Linked DNA regions of Homo sapiens. The protein of the gene in region 1 purifies or fractionates together with the protein of each later gene. This does not show direct contact. Each region holds a gene or a part of one and is shown in the gene's direction. Other genes may lie near its edges.

Region 1 (7,022 bases):
AATCCAGAGTGCGCTCCCTACCTTCAGGTCAGCTGATTAGCAACCTGCATTCCCTCTGCCTCTAATTTCCCCTTCCTATGTAATATAACATACCCACAGGTTCCGGGGAATAGGATGTGAACATCTTTGGGGGTGCTGTTATTCCACCCACCATGGAGACATTCAACCTTTCTAATTTCTTCCATTCTAAGTGAAAAAAATGGTGTTATGCTCTTTTAAGTTGCATTTCTTGATTGATTTCATTGGTGAGGTTGAACGCCTTTCTATTTGAAGAGGCAAATTTCTGTTATTCTAAGTTGTCCGTTCATACCCTTTGTCTCCTTTGCCACTGGGTTGCTCTTTCTCTCTCTCTTTTTCCAATTGAATTACGAATTTCTTAAGGGCAGAGGCCTCCTCACATTCACCTTTGTGTCCCCAGTCCCTCAAAATATGGCTGGTTCAGAGAAGGGATTCTGTGCCTGTTGGCCCTTCCTTTCTCCCAAATGTCGTCCCTCCCACTCCATTTTCTTGCCATTCTGCTTTGGAAAGAACGTCGGGAGGCTTCCGGCTGAGCAGCCTGAGTTGTGTCTGTGCACAAGAGCGTGTGCTGGGCTGAGACAAAGCGCGTCTGTGATTTGTTCCCAGCCCTGTTGGGACTTCTCTGGCCGCTGGGGCTCTGGCTCAGACTCAGTCCCTTCACTTGGGCGGCCGTTCACCCTACTCGGAGCCTCGGTTTTCTTATCCGTAAAAACAGCGATGGTATCATGCCTGACATTTAAGGGGTGCTGGGAAAGTAACTGAAACAAAAGCATCAATGCTTGGCAAGGGAGCACCCTGGTTGCTGGGCCGCCAGCACTTGCAGTGTTGATCAGAGCAGCAGAGCCCCTGGAAGGGGACTGGAGGCAGCTGCCGGAGGTCCAGGCCTGCCCGGCCAGGCTCTTCCAGGTGGGGCTCCACACCTGCATTCAGGATGGGGAGGATGCTCTGGGTCAGAGGGGAGAGCCGGTCCTTCCCTTCCTCAAGACCCTTCCAGAAGGTCTGCTGGGCCCCAGAATACCAGGCCTCAGGAGGGTCCTTCTCACCACTGGCTGCTACATGTGGAGCCCTGAACCCCCTTGGCTCAAGGGCTGGTGGTGGAAAGAGACCCTCCACCCTGAACTAGTCACATTATCTTGGAGGGACCTCTCTGCCTCCATTTCCCGGCTGGCAATATAGAGAAGGCAGTCCCTACCTGCCTCCTGCTGGGAGGAGTCACTGAACAAGATCAGGGCCGTCAAGCCTGATACCTCAAAAGGGCGATCAATGGCCATTCCTGTCATCATGTTCCCTCCTCCCCTGCCCTCCTTCCCCTGCTGTAAAGCTGCCGGTTCGTAGGCCTGAGCCTGACAGCAGGTCCAGGAGCTGAAGCAGCCCTGCTTCTGCCAGTGACCGGCGACCATGGCAGGTCACAGTGCCCTCGGCCATGGCTCCCTGTTCTGTGACTCAGGCCTTGGGGTGGACAGATTCCCCTCACTCCTTCTCTCCCTGTTTCTCCAGCCAGGCAGAGCTGGCAGCCATGAGGAGACAGCACCTGGGCTGGGAGGGCTGGAGTCCAGCCACCCTCCTCTAATTCATTTCCAAGCTGGCAGCTGCCTTTCCCTCTTGCAGGGACCCTAGACCCAGGACCCTGAGGGCGCTCTCTGTGGGCAGGGCTGTGGCTTTCTGGCAGGGTCCCTAGCGATGCCCCCTCTGCTGCCTCCCAGTCTTCACAGTCAGCAGAGCCCTTGGGGCCTGTCTTCCAGCCTTTCCTGTGCAGTCGGGCGGGCCTGGACCTCATTAGCACTTTTTATTAAATCCATATGTTCTGTGTGGAAGACCAGCCCTGAGTCCCTGTGCTCCCGCCCTGGGTGTGGGTGGGGGAGAACTGTGCACAGATGGCGATTGTGTGAATTTGGTGTGGGATCCTCCAGGCTCTGGGCTGCCAAGCCTCCTAGGCATGGAGATGCTGAAGGGCAGTGCAGCCAGGCAGGGATCAGGAGCGACTAGAGTCTGGAGGCCTTTCCTGACCCTGCTGAGCCTGTGGGGTCAAGAATGGGGAATGGAAGCGGGCCTGGCCCTTCCTGGGCACTGTGGGCCTGCTGCTCTGCTCTCCATTGACACATCTGCTCCCTGTGCCCTTCCCCAGGAGTGCATCATCGACGAGGACTGTGGGCCCAGCATGTACTGCCAGTTTGCCAGCTTCCAGTACACCTGCCAGCCATGCCGGGGCCAGAGGATGGTGAGTATGCCAGGGCCTCTGGGGCTGTGGCACCAGGGTCTCAGGCACCTGGGGGAGAAAGCCAGGGGCCCCAGCGTTCTCAGCTGGGCTTCCCAGAAGAGCCTCACCATGATGGGGAGGACCCAAGAGGGCTCCCCAGAGGGCTGACTCCTGGAGGACAAGGAACTCATTCCAGTTTGGGATGACAGGAAGCCATCTGCAGACCCAGGGCCACTCCCATCCACCCCATGTCCTCTGGTCATGTTGTTTGTGTCATTGATGGTAGAGAAGGGGAGGGACGGCCAGGCACCGTGGCTACACCTGTAATCCCAGCACTTTGGGGAGACCAAGGCAGAAGGATCTATTGAGGCCGGGAGTTCGAGAAGGGGAGGGAAGGGAGAGGAGGTGTCCCTACACCTGTTGCTTCCCCTGGGGATGACCCATCCTAATAGACAAACAGAGACATTCCGGCAGCCCCCAGGCAGGGAGAGCGGCAGCTGCTCTCCTTCTGGACCTGCACCCCACCCACCAGATCTTTCTCCAATCTGCCAATAAGAGAGGGCAGAGGGACAGGGCAAGAAGAGGCCAGGGCACTGCCCCAGTGCAGGTTAGATTGGGAAATGTGGAGCCAGGGCAAAGGAGACTCTTCACCCAACAGGCATTTTGGACGAAGCCACATGGACTCACAGACTTTTCATAGTCATTTTTCCTTATTCAGACAATAACACAGCATGCTAATAAGCTTGGAAAGTCAAGCAGTTCTTATTACCTTACCCGACTGTCTGTGGTGAGGCCACTGCTGTTGCACCTCGCAGCCAACCCCACTCGGTACCGTCACTGGGCACAGCCGTGGGGACCTCACTTTGCTCTCTAACTGCCATGCCCTGTGTGGCTGCAGGACCCTGGCACCCACAGGCCATCCTCATCTTGGGCTGGCTTGGGCCTTAGTTTAATCGGCTCATCATTGGGCCTTGCCTCTTTGGGCCTGGACCTAGGGACCTAAGGAAAAAGGGAACAGCACAAGTCTGTGGGGACCACAAAGACCCCCTGCTGTTCTTTGCAAAATCTTAAGCTGTGGAGAAAGACTCAGATCCATGAGTCCTCCCGGTGCCATTTTTCCAGCGTTCTGACCCCCATGTCTCGCCAGCCAAGCTCCCACCTCTGTCCCACTGACTTTCACTGAAATCTCAGCCTGGTCTGCCTGTCTCTACAATGGGAGGATGCAGGTTGGCCTATCTGTGGTATCTTCAGGCTGGGCTCTCAGCAGGCCCCCAGTCCCTAAGCCGCTGGCTCTAGGCTCTTTCCACCTGTCTGCAGCTCTGCACCCGGGACAGTGAGTGCTGTGGAGACCAGCTGTGTGTCTGGGGTCACTGCACCAAAATGGCCACCAGGGGCAGCAATGGGACCATCTGTGACAACCAGAGGGACTGCCAGCCGGGGCTGTGCTGTGCCTTCCAGAGAGGTGAGTGGCCTCCCCTCAGATGCAGGAAAAACCCTGTCCCAAGCTCCACCACACTGGACCTCCTGGAGCCACGTCCATGCCAACCACATGGTTTCGCGTCCCACCTCTTGGATAGGCTCCCAAATGCTCATCAGTGTGTGCTGCACTCCCACAGCCTCTGCCCGGAGTGGGAAGACCACCTCTTTTTTTTCCCCTGTTGATGCTCAGAAAAGTTAAATGACTTCAGGATGCAAAAGCCCAGTCTGGAATGGGGTGGGACTAGCAGCCCCCTCCCTCCCACCACTCCTTATTTCCCAGGTTCCTCTACCTGTGAATCACCCGCTTCCACTCCCATCTTCCGTCCTGCCTCTCCCAGGTGAGGTCTGCTCAGGCTCTCTCCGCCCCCACTAGGGTTTTGAAAAATTCTCATTTGCCGCCTCCCCAGCTCTGCATCCCCAGCCCACTAGTCCTCCCTGTACCTGCCGCCTCCGTGATCTTCCTAAAGGGCTGCTTTTTGGGTGTTGCTCCCCTGGGACCTGCAGCAGCTCCTGTTGTCTCCCACGATGTTCAGACTCCTTAGGCTGTCTTGTGAGGCCTCATGCAGCTCCAACTTACTTGCCCTCCTTTTCTCTCCACTACTTCTTGGCCTATTTGGGAATTTCACCGGCCCTGACATTTTCCACTGAGCTCAACCCCAGGCCTTTGCTGGTGCTGTCCCTGTGCCTGAATGCCTTTGCCTCCCTCTTAATTTCTCCAGACTTTCTGGCCCTCAAAATCCAGCAGAAGCCCACCTCTTCCAGGCAGTCCTCCCTGCTTCAGCCCTACCAATCATTCCCTCCTGAGCCCAGGCTGCTATTCTTGTTTCCTGTCATTCCGTATCTTCAAAACTAGCCTGCACTTTGGGGTTGAGGGTGGGAGGTGGGAGGTTATGCTCCATTTCTTTGCCCCTCCCTTTGGAGCCCTTCTACCCTACACGGGGCACACAGGGGTGACTCTGGGCTGGTTCCAGGCCTGCTGTTCCCTGTGTGCACACCCCTGCCCGTGGAGGGCGAGCTTTGCCATGACCCCGCCAGCCGGCTTCTGGACCTCATCACCTGGGAGCTAGAGCCTGATGGAGCCTTGGACCGATGCCCTTGTGCCAGTGGCCTCCTCTGCCAGCCCCACAGGTGAGGCCCCCTAACCCTCACTCTCAGGGAGCCAAGGGCTGAGGAGGTGCCATCCAGCAGGGGCGTAGGAGCAGGAGCAGGTTTTCCCTGGGGGAGGTGTAGATTCCCTTTAGGATTGGTTTGAGAGGTCGTTGGGTCATGCAGATGGAAGGGTCCAATCAGCAGTCGGTTCTAGGGGTCTGGAGCCCAGGCTGCCCAGGAGGCACAGATCTGGGGCTCATCTAGCTGGTGGCTGAAGCTTCATGAGTGGATGGTCCATGGAGAGGACATGGAGGGAGAAAAGCCTGGGCTCCCTCCCCAGACCTGTCACAATGACAGATAAGCAGAGAAAAAGGAGCTGGCAGAGAGGCCACGGGGAGGCCAGGAGTGGCCACCAAGGTGGAGGGTGCAGCCCACACTGTCTGAGGCTGCTGAGACTCCATGAGGCATGAGGCTCAAGCCTGGCCAGCTTCTCAGGGCACATCTCCCTGTCCTCCCCGCAGCCTCTACTCAGTCTTCTCTCCCAACAGAATCCAGGGCTGCTGGGCAGACAGGCAGAACTCCCATTCCCCACGGCTCTGTGCAGTGGCTCACACCTGTAATCCCAGAGCTTTGGGAGGCCAATGCAGGAGGATTGCTTGAGGCCAAGAGTTCAAGACCAGCCTGGGCAACATAGGGAGATCCCGTCTCTACCAAACACATTAATTTTTTTTAAAAAAAGGAATTCTTCCTCCCTATTCCCACAGAGGTCCATGGCTCCCTGCATGTGGCTAGACTACACCCCAGAGTCAGGCTGACTCCTGCCTGGAGGCCCGAATGGGCCACAGTCTTTGAGGGGCTGTGGTGCTGCTACATAGCACTCAGGTCCTGCCCCTGGGCTGCGGGGCCTGAGAGTCACAGGAGGTCAGGCCTGCGCTGGAGGAGGGGAAGCTGCCCCCCACCAGCACATTCTCCCAAAGTGAGCCTCCCTCAGCCATCATTTTAAGATAGATGTTGACGGGAAGTGAAGTGTCTCTGTTGAAGAGACAGGAGAGGAGGGGGCATGAAGGTGAGGCTGGGAGCCCCACAGAGTCAGGGCGCCTTAGCTTTCGGCCTGGGCAGGCTCCCACGTTTAGAGCCTGGCTTTGTCCCATCTCTCCCCAGCCACAGCCTGGTGTATGTGTGCAAGCCGACCTTCGTGGGGAGCCGTGACCAAGATGGGGAGATCCTGCTGCCCAGAGAGGTCCCCGATGAGTATGAAGTTGGCAGCTTCATGGAGGAGGTGCGCCAGGAGCTGGAGGACCTGGAGAGGAGCCTGACTGAAGAGATGGCGCTGAGGGAGCCTGCGGCTGCCGCCGCTGCACTGCTGGGAGGGGAAGAGATTTAGATCTGGACCAGGCTGTGGGTAGATGTGCAATAGAAATAGCTAATTTATTTCCCCAGGTGTGTGCTTTAGGCGTGGGCTGACCAGGCTTCTTCCTACATCTTCTTCCCAGTAAGTTTCCCCTCTGGCTTGACAGCATGAGGTGTTGTGCATTTGTTCAGCTCCCCCAGGCTGTTCTCCAGGCTTCACAGTCTGGTGCTTGGGAGAGTCAGGCAGGGTTAAACTGCAGGAGCAGTTTGCCACCCCTGTCCAGATTATTGGCTGCTTTGCCTCTACCAGTTGGCAGACAGCCGTTTGTTCTACATGGCTTTGATAATTGTTTGAGGGGAGGAGATGGAAACAATGTGGAGTCTCCCTCTGATTGGTTTTGGGGAAATGTGGAGAAGAGTGCCCTGCTTTGCAAACATCAACCTGGCAAAAATGCAACAAATGAATTTTCCACGCAGTTCTTTCCATGGGCATAGGTAAGCTGTGCCTTCAGCTGTTGCAGATGAAATGTTCTGTTCACCCTGCATTACATGTGTTTATTCATCCAGCAGTGTTGCTCAGCTCCTACCTCTGTGCCAGGGCAGCATTTTCATATCCAAGATCAATTCCCTCTCTCAGCACAGCCTGGGGAGGGGGTCATTGTTCTCCTCGTCCATCAGGGATCTCAGAGGCTCAGAGACTGCAAGCTGCTTGCCCAAGTCACACAGCTAGTGAAGACCAGAGCAGTTTCATCTGGTTGTGACTCTAAGCTCAGTGCTCTCTCCACTACCCCACACCAGCCTTGGTGCCACCAAAAGTGCTCCCCAAAAGGAAGGAGAATGGGATTTTTCTTTTGAGGCATGCACATCTGGAATTAAGGTCAAACTAATT
Region 2 (7,733 bases), on another chromosome or scaffold:
CTACCCTTGACATGATGAGCTGCAGGCTTGAGTCGAAAGAACAAGAATGTACCAATAAGGGTCAAATGACACCCCTAATCAGCTTACAAACTCCGACCAGAGAGCCTTTGTTTTGATTCTTGTGCTATCGTGTACCCGTTCCTGCTGTCCACATGGGCTCCCTCCTTTGCCACCCTTAGAGAGGGACAAGCACCCACAGGTGGAATTGCTCTTGAAGTAATCCCAACAGCTCTCAATTTGCATCAAAAGAAGTCCCTTTTGAATTCAATACCTGTTAGCCACGAAACCTATTAAGAGTCTATTCAGAGGGCCAGATTTTACCTCTTGGTTCAGTCACACCTCCATCAAGAGCCTTCTGTGTCTTTCTTGTGGGCAGGACTTAAACTTTTGTTATTCTCTTGGCATTAATACACAGCCCTTTCTTGCTTTGCTGTGGTATTTTATTAATCCAATCACATCTAACTGGCTTGTTTTATTCTTTTCCAAACACACCTTAGAGCATTTTTTGTTTTGTTTTTTGTCTTTATTTATTTCTTTTTTTGCTTTTTTCAGAGGCCCAGGAACTTGATCCTAATTTCTAAAGAGGCAGTGAAGAGCCGGGCATAGTGACTCATGCCTGTAATCCCAGCACTTTAGGAGGCCGAGGCAGGCGGATTACCAGAGGTCAGGAGTTTGAGACCAGCCTGGCCAATGTGGTGAAACCCCTTTTCTACTAAAAATACAAAATTAGCCAGGCGTGGTGGTGGGCGCCTGTAATCCCAGCTACTCAGGGGGCTGAGGCAGGAGAATTGCTTGAACCTGGGAGGTGGAGGTTGCAGTGAGCCCACTCCAGTCTGGGCAACAAAGTGAGACTCTGTCTCAAAAAAAAAAAAAAAAAAGAGGCAGTGAAGTTATTCTTATTTTCAAGTGAGAAGAGAAGGTCATAGAAATGCAAAGCAATAATTCATATATATATGAAATGTATATGTTATATAAACATATATATATATATATTTAGAGTAGGTCATCTTTTTTGTTGTTGTTGTTGTGATGGCAATATAGGTCCAGGTGATCCTTCTGCTAATATTCATTCCCCATTGTACTTTTAAGAGCTATAGACTTTTTTTTTCTTTTCTTTCTTTTTTTTTTTTTGAGACAGAGTCTTGCTCTGTTGCCCAGGCTGGAGTGCAGTGGTGTGATCTCTGCTCACTGCAACCTCCGCCTCCTGGGTTCAAGCCATTCTCCTGCCTCAGCCTCCCCAGTAGCTGGGATTCCAGGCACCCACCACCACACACAGCTAATTTTTGTGTTTTCAGTAGAGATGAAGTGTCACCATGTTGGCCAGGCTGGTCTTGAACTCCTGACCTCAGGTGATCCACCCACCTCAGCCTCCCAAAGTGCTGGGATTACAGGCTTTCTTTTTTTTCTTGATACAGGGTCTCACTCTGTTGCCCAGGCTTGAGTGCAGTGGCCCAATCACAGCTCACTGAAGCTTTGACCTGCCGGGCTCAGGGAATCCTTCCACTTTAGCCTCCCAAGTATCTGGGACTACAGGCACACACCACCACACCCAGCTAATTTTTACATTTTTAGTTTTTGTACAGATGGAGTCTCCCAGTGTTGCACAGGTTGGTCTCAAACTCCTGGCCTCAAATGATCTTCCCACCTTGGCTTCCCAAAGTGTTGGGATTACAGGCGTGAGCCACCACACCTGGCCAAGTTTTGTTTTTTAATCAGCTACACTTGAGTTATTTTTCTATTGACTGGAGGCCTTAGAGAGCAATGGCAGAAAAAGGCAGTGGGATGCCATGCCAGGGAAGGCAGGAAGGGAAGGCCAGTCTGACATTTCCTGGCCCTTGCAGCAGCAGGGGTTTTCTGGAAAGTGGGTAAGAGAAAGATGAAGCTTAGGTCTAGGTTAAAATTGTCACTTTCTCTCCAACTGGGAGAGTGTCGTTCATTGATGTTTCTTCAGCTGGGCTCAAAGAAGAGGTAGCAGGATGCATGATGAGGCATGATCCTACTTCTTTTCAGAAGTCACTGAATAACATATTTGCTAAAAGGAACATGCTTAGTCATAAATATCAGTGGAGCTGATTTCACACTACACCACCAATTCTAGAACTTCTGCACTGATGAGAAACTAGCTTGAATTGTCGTCACCCTGGGGGCAGGAAAGTGGGGGGGCGGGGGTAGGGAGGCGAGACTCCATGTCCTCTGGGTTTAAGAGGTTGGACTTTAGAGGATTACATGCTTACTGCTCATTTCACAGGCACATTTAAGGCCCGACTTAACCCCACACTTTCTATTATCGATCCTTCCCCCACCTCACTCCTTACCTACCAGGACCATATACTTAAGGCACTCTACTAGGGACAAAATTTAAAGATGTGCTAAAAAGTCTCAGTAATCAAATCATGCAAAATTTATTTTAATTGAAAATTTTTAAGTCAGTTTTTATGAGGTGACTTCTGAAAAGAAATGGGATCGTTTTCATTGTGCATCTTGCTACCTCCTCTTTGTGTTTTTTTTGTTTTTATTTTGTTTTGAAAAGATGCAGTCTTGGTGTGTCGCCCAGGCTAGAGTGCATGGAGTGCAGTGACGTGATCTCAGCTCACTGCAACCTCCACCTCCTGGATTCAACCGATTATGCTCCCTCAGCGTCCCAAGTAGCTGAGACTACAGGCATGCACCACCAAGCCCAGCTAATTTTTGTATTTTCAGTAGGGATGGAGTTTCACCATGTTGGCCAGGCTGGTCTCAAACTCCAGACCTGGAGTGATCCGCCCGCCTCGGCCTCCTAGAATGTTGGGATTACAGGTGTGAGCCACCGCCTGGCCGCTACCTCCTCTTTTTTTTTCTTTTCTTTTTTTTTTTTGAGACGGAGTCTTGCTCTGTCTCCCAGGCTGGAGTGCGGTGTGGCACCATCTCAGCTCACTGCAACCTCCGCCTCCCGGGTTCAAGCAATTCTCCTGCCTCAGCCTCCTGCGTAGCTGGGATTACAGGCACGCTCCACCACACCTGGCTAATTTTTGTATTTTTAGTAGGGACGGGGTTTCACCACGTCGGTCAGGCTGGTCTCGAACTCCTGACCTCGTGATTCGCCCGCCTCAGCCTCCCAAAATGTTGGGATTACAGGTGTGAGCCACCGCGCCCGGCCGCTACCTCCTTTTTGAGCCCAACTAAAGAAACATCAAGGATTGATACCCTCCCAGTTGAAGAGAAAGTGACAACTTTAACCCAAATCTCACCTTCCTCTTACTTTCTCTTTCCCATTTTCCAGCTGCCAAACTAAGGGCAGCTGCTGTCAGTTTTTGTAAATAAAGTTTCCAGGGCTGGGATTAGAGCGAGAGAAGAGAGGCAGGATTGTGAAAGGTCAGGAGTGGATACTCAATCAAAATTTTTTATATTTTGTTCATTACGGATTTTTTAAATTAATTTTGATTTTTAAAAATATTGCACTAAAATGTTTATGTTGATTATTGAGGTTTTTTTATTTTGTGAACCCATAAAATTTGCAACTGACAGTACCCTGTCCAGGTCCAGTAAAAATACCTAGGAGTCTACAAAAATCTACCCACGACTCACTGGACCTCAGGTACATATCCCCCCCCGCCCCCATGAAGTCTCCATAAAGTGTCCCAGTGAGTTTTAATGTTCTCTCCTGTCTTTCCATGCACGTGTATTAAGATGCATTGCCTTCTGATTAGTGTTTTCCACTTCGAACAGCGGGAATGCCTCGACCACGCCTGTCTTCAAATTTCTGCTCTAGTTAAGAAACGATCTCAGGCCGGGCACGGTGGCTCACGCCTGCAATCCCAGCACTTTGGGAGGCTGACGCGGGCGGATCACCTGAGGTCAGGAGTTCGAAAAGAGCCTGACCAACATGGTAAAACCCCGTCTCTACTAAAAATACAAAATCAGCCGGGTGTGGTGGCGTATGCCTGTAATCCCAGCTACTTGGGAGGCTGAGAAGGGAGAATCACTTGAACCTGGGAGGCAGAGGTTGCAGTGAGCCGAGATCGTCTCAAGAAAAAAAAAAAAAAGAAAAAAAAGAAACGATCTCTTCCCTTCTCAAAGTTATATACATTTCACTATTCGCCAACCACCTCCTCCACGCCGTCCAGAGCTGAGCTGACACGCAGCGAAGTCCTCTCAGTGGTCCCTCCGCACCTCAGCCCTGTGCTTGGCAGCGAGACGAGTGACAGGGCCGCCCCAGCATGGGTCTCCCGGGCCGCGGACCCGCCCCACGCCGTATCCAGCACGCTGTCCTCCCGCCCCATCTTTGTGCCGGCCATCGTGTGGTCGCGTCTGCGCGCTCCGCCCGGTCTGCCGGCGTGAGAAAGAGCTCGTGTCGTTCCCAAGTTCAGACCAGAGGGGACGGCGAAGCGCGAAAAAGTTCCCTGCGCCCAGTACGCAGGCGCAGCCGTGCTCCTGGGCTTCCCGGGCCTCGTCCCAGCTGGCGCGCCCGGCGCTCCTCCGCCAGCGGGCAGTTGGGGGCGCTGCAGGGAGGGCACCCGAGCGGGTTGGGGGCGCTCGGAAGGGTGGCTTGCAAGGTCCGGGTAGCTGCAGTCCCCGGAGTGGGGCGGAGAGGCGCGGCACCGCGCGGACGAGGATGGGGCGGGGGCGGGCGCAGCCCGAGGGTGCAGGCACGATAAGGCGGGTGACAGCCAGCGGGGAGGGGCGGGCGCCACCGCGTCCACGCCCTTTGCTCGGGGCCGGGCCGGGAGGGTCCTCGGGCTTTGCGCGCGCCTGGCCGGCGGGCTGAGGCGTACGGGTCGCACGCAGCGCCATGCGAGGCCCCCCTGCCTGGCCGCTGCGGCTGCTCGAGCCACCGAGCCCTGCCGAGCCAGGTCGGCTCCTGCCGGTAGCCTGCGTGTGGGCCGCGGCCAGCCGCGTTCCCGGGTCCCTATCGCCGTTCACTGGCCTGAGGCCGGCGCGGCTATGGGGCGCGGGGCCCGCGCTGCTCTGGGGCGTTGGAGCCGCGCGCCGCTGGAGGAGCGGCTGCCGGGGCGGGGGTCCGGGCGCCTCGCGGGGCGTCCTGGGCCTCGCGCGGCTCCTGGGGCTGTGGGCTCGCGGCCCCGGCAGCTGCAGGTGCGGGGCTTTTGCCGGGCCAGGCGCTCCTCGGCTCCCGCGCGCCCGGTTCCCGGGCGGTCCCGCAGCCGCTGCCTGGGCAGGGGACGAGGCCTGGCGGCGCGGGCCGGCGGCGCCTCCCGGGGACAAGGGGCGGCTGCGCCCCGCAGCGGCCGGACTCCCGGAGGCCCGGAAGCTCCTGGGGCTGGCGTACCCTGAGCGCCGGAGGCTGGCAGGTAGGGTCCTCCCCGGCCACTTCCCTCCGCCGGGCCTCTCCTTCTCCACACGCGGGGTCCCGGGGCGCCGAGAGGGACACGGCCGGGCCGCAGAGCGCGTGTCACCGCCGCCTCTCCTGGGCCACTCCTAACCCCGGAGGAGGGAGGGGATCGCTCACCTCAGAGTAGCGTTGTCAAGATTTCGCCTTAGCTGGGGACTCGTTTGCAGATTTTACACTTGTTTTCTTGTTGACACACGTTATATATGTCATTATTGGAATCTTTGGGTCTGTTCCACCACCAACTTAGTGGGAGCATCTGTTTTGGCTTAGGCAGCAAAATGAGCTGGAGGTTTTTCCTTGGAAAAAAAAATTCTAGCCAAAAATATGCCTATTTTGTTATTAGGCGTTTATACTTTTTTTTTTTAACCAAAAACACATTATTTGCTTCAAGCGAGTCTGTCAAGCAGTCACCAATGCTTTCACAGCGGAAAGCAAAACTTTCAGACTTGTCTCTTGTGCAGGAAGTTACAGCACTGTGTTCAACAGGCCACACCAGTGATCTGTTCAGTAATTGAGTAACTTTTTTAAAAGAAGCCAAAATGAATGTTTTTAGAAACAAAATTTAAATAGGACAGTTTTCTATAGCTCCTCATTTTTTAGCCATAATTGGAGGAGTGTTTAGATGCAAGGGCCTTGTAAGATCTAAAATTTTTTCGATTTCTCTAAATCTTCACTCCTTCTATAAACATCTGTTGAGCCCTCATTCTGGACTGGGCCCTGGGTTTACAGTGGCATGCACAAGGAAACATGGTCCTCACTTCTGCTGGGGCTTCTAGGTTAGTGGGGAGAAGCATCTATGAAATATTCGTATGTATAGAGGTAAACCTGCACCTGTGGGCTGTGGAAGGGGGCCTGTGGGGCCTGTGAGGTTGTCAGGTGCAACACCAGAAAAGCATTCTTTGCTGCAAATCCATTGCTTTAGAAAGGACCCTCCTGGGTAGTGATTTGGGATTTAGAGTAGGTTTGCACAGTGGAGGAGAGCAGTTAGGGTGGCGACTTTTCATCTACCAGTTGCTATGAAAGCTTAGGGGGCTGTTGATATCACTCGGGTGTAAAGAGAATTATTTCATTGTTCAGTTGGTTGAGTGTAGATTTTGTTGTAAAATATCTTTTTCTCTTTCCTCTTTTTAAAAACATTGGAGACTAGGAGCTCTCACTGGACTTTGAGCTGCTTGAGACGGGGACTGTGCGATTCATCTTTCTGTCTCTAGTTCTTAGCATGTGCACGGCACAGAGCAGGCGCTCAGAGTGCCTTCAGTGAAGGAATAAATGACCATACCACCAGGCACAGAGTGAGGCCTTTAGAAACCCTGAGCATCATCGGGTGCGCCCACCACTTCTGTATGTGACTCAAAGTAAGTGTAAGGAAATCCAGTTCTGTTTTGTTTCTGAAATACTAGATGTCAGGAAGGGTGTTTAGGTGTCAGGCTTTGGTGGCCTACACGTGCCCAGTCCTCTTATGCCATGACCATTGTTCCTGTGACCCCTCACTCTGTCCCCAGATATCCTGCCATGCTAGTATGTTTTGGTGACAGCCTTAAACAAGACGAGACTGCCTCCTTTTTTCTTTCTTCTTTTGTTTTTCTGGGATAGGGGTCTCACTGTGTTGCTGAGACTTGTGTTGAACTCCTCAGCTCAAGCAGCTCTGCCTCTACCTCCTGAGTAGTTGGGACTACAGGCATGTGCCACCACACCCAGCTCGTACCTTTTTTTTTTTTTTTTGAGATGGAGTTTTGCTCTTGTTGCCCAGGCTGGAGTGCAATGGCGTGATCTCACCTCACCGCAACCTCCGCCTCCCGGGTTCAAGCGATCTTCCTGCCTCAGCCTCCCAAGTAGCTGGGATTACAGGCATGTGCCATCATACCCGGCTAATTTTGTATTTTTGGAGACAGAGTTTCTCCATGTTGGTCAGGGTGGTCTCGAACTCCCGACCTCGGGTGATCTGCCCACCTTGGCCTTCCAAAGGTGCTGGGATTACAGGTGTGAGCCACTGCACCCGGCCTTCTTTTTATTTTAAGAACAGAATATATTTTGTTCCACCACATTGAGAAATTATGAATATATAATTTGAAGAAACAAGCCTAGGGTTGGCACACTATTTTTTTTTTTTTTTTTGCTTTTCAAACAGATAAATACATATTGTATGTTATGAGGATAAGGATATCTGATAAAAAGCCCTTATTTAGATGTATGATTTCCTGAGAAGTTATTATATATTAAAGCCAGTTAGGATTAAGAGGAAGTGGTGGTCATTGTTAATTTGTAATTAAAAAAAAATGTGTAATTTATCATTCTAAGAGCAGCCTGAGGTGTTGGCACATCTCTTTGAAATGCTGGAGGTAAAGAGCAATTGCGTGTGTGTATTTTCTAATCAAAACACTAAAAAAGCTGAGCTGAAAAGGAATTC

What was found. Proteins that work in one complex are often made in the same cells at the same time.
Region 2: the proteins of DKK3 (region 1) and ABCB10 purify together in Homo sapiens (co-immunoprecipitation; 3 studies listed by BioGRID and IntAct, with this or other methods). This does not show direct contact.

Annotation. Positions count from the first base shown.
Region 1 is NC_000011.10:11,963,609-11,970,630, reverse strand, and holds part of DKK3 (dickkopf-related protein 3 isoform 1 precursor), read left to right. Parts: intron 1-2,143; coding exon 2,144-2,236; intron 2,237-3,532; coding exon 3,533-3,677; intron 3,678-4,665; coding exon 4,666-4,822; intron 4,823-5,902; coding exon of another isoform or gene 5,903-5,944; coding exon 5,945-6,167; 3' UTR 6,168-7,022. UniProt on the Homo sapiens protein: Antagonizes canonical Wnt signaling by inhibiting LRP5/6 interaction with Wnt and by forming a ternary complex with the transmembrane protein KREMEN that promotes internalization of LRP5/6.
Region 2 is NC_000001.11:229,555,688-229,563,420, reverse strand, and holds the start of ABCB10 (ATP-binding cassette sub-family B member 10, mitochondrial), read left to right. Parts: upstream 1-4,713; 5' UTR 4,714-4,768; coding exon 4,769-5,285; intron 5,286-5,358; exon of another isoform or gene 5,359-6,681; intron 6,682-7,733.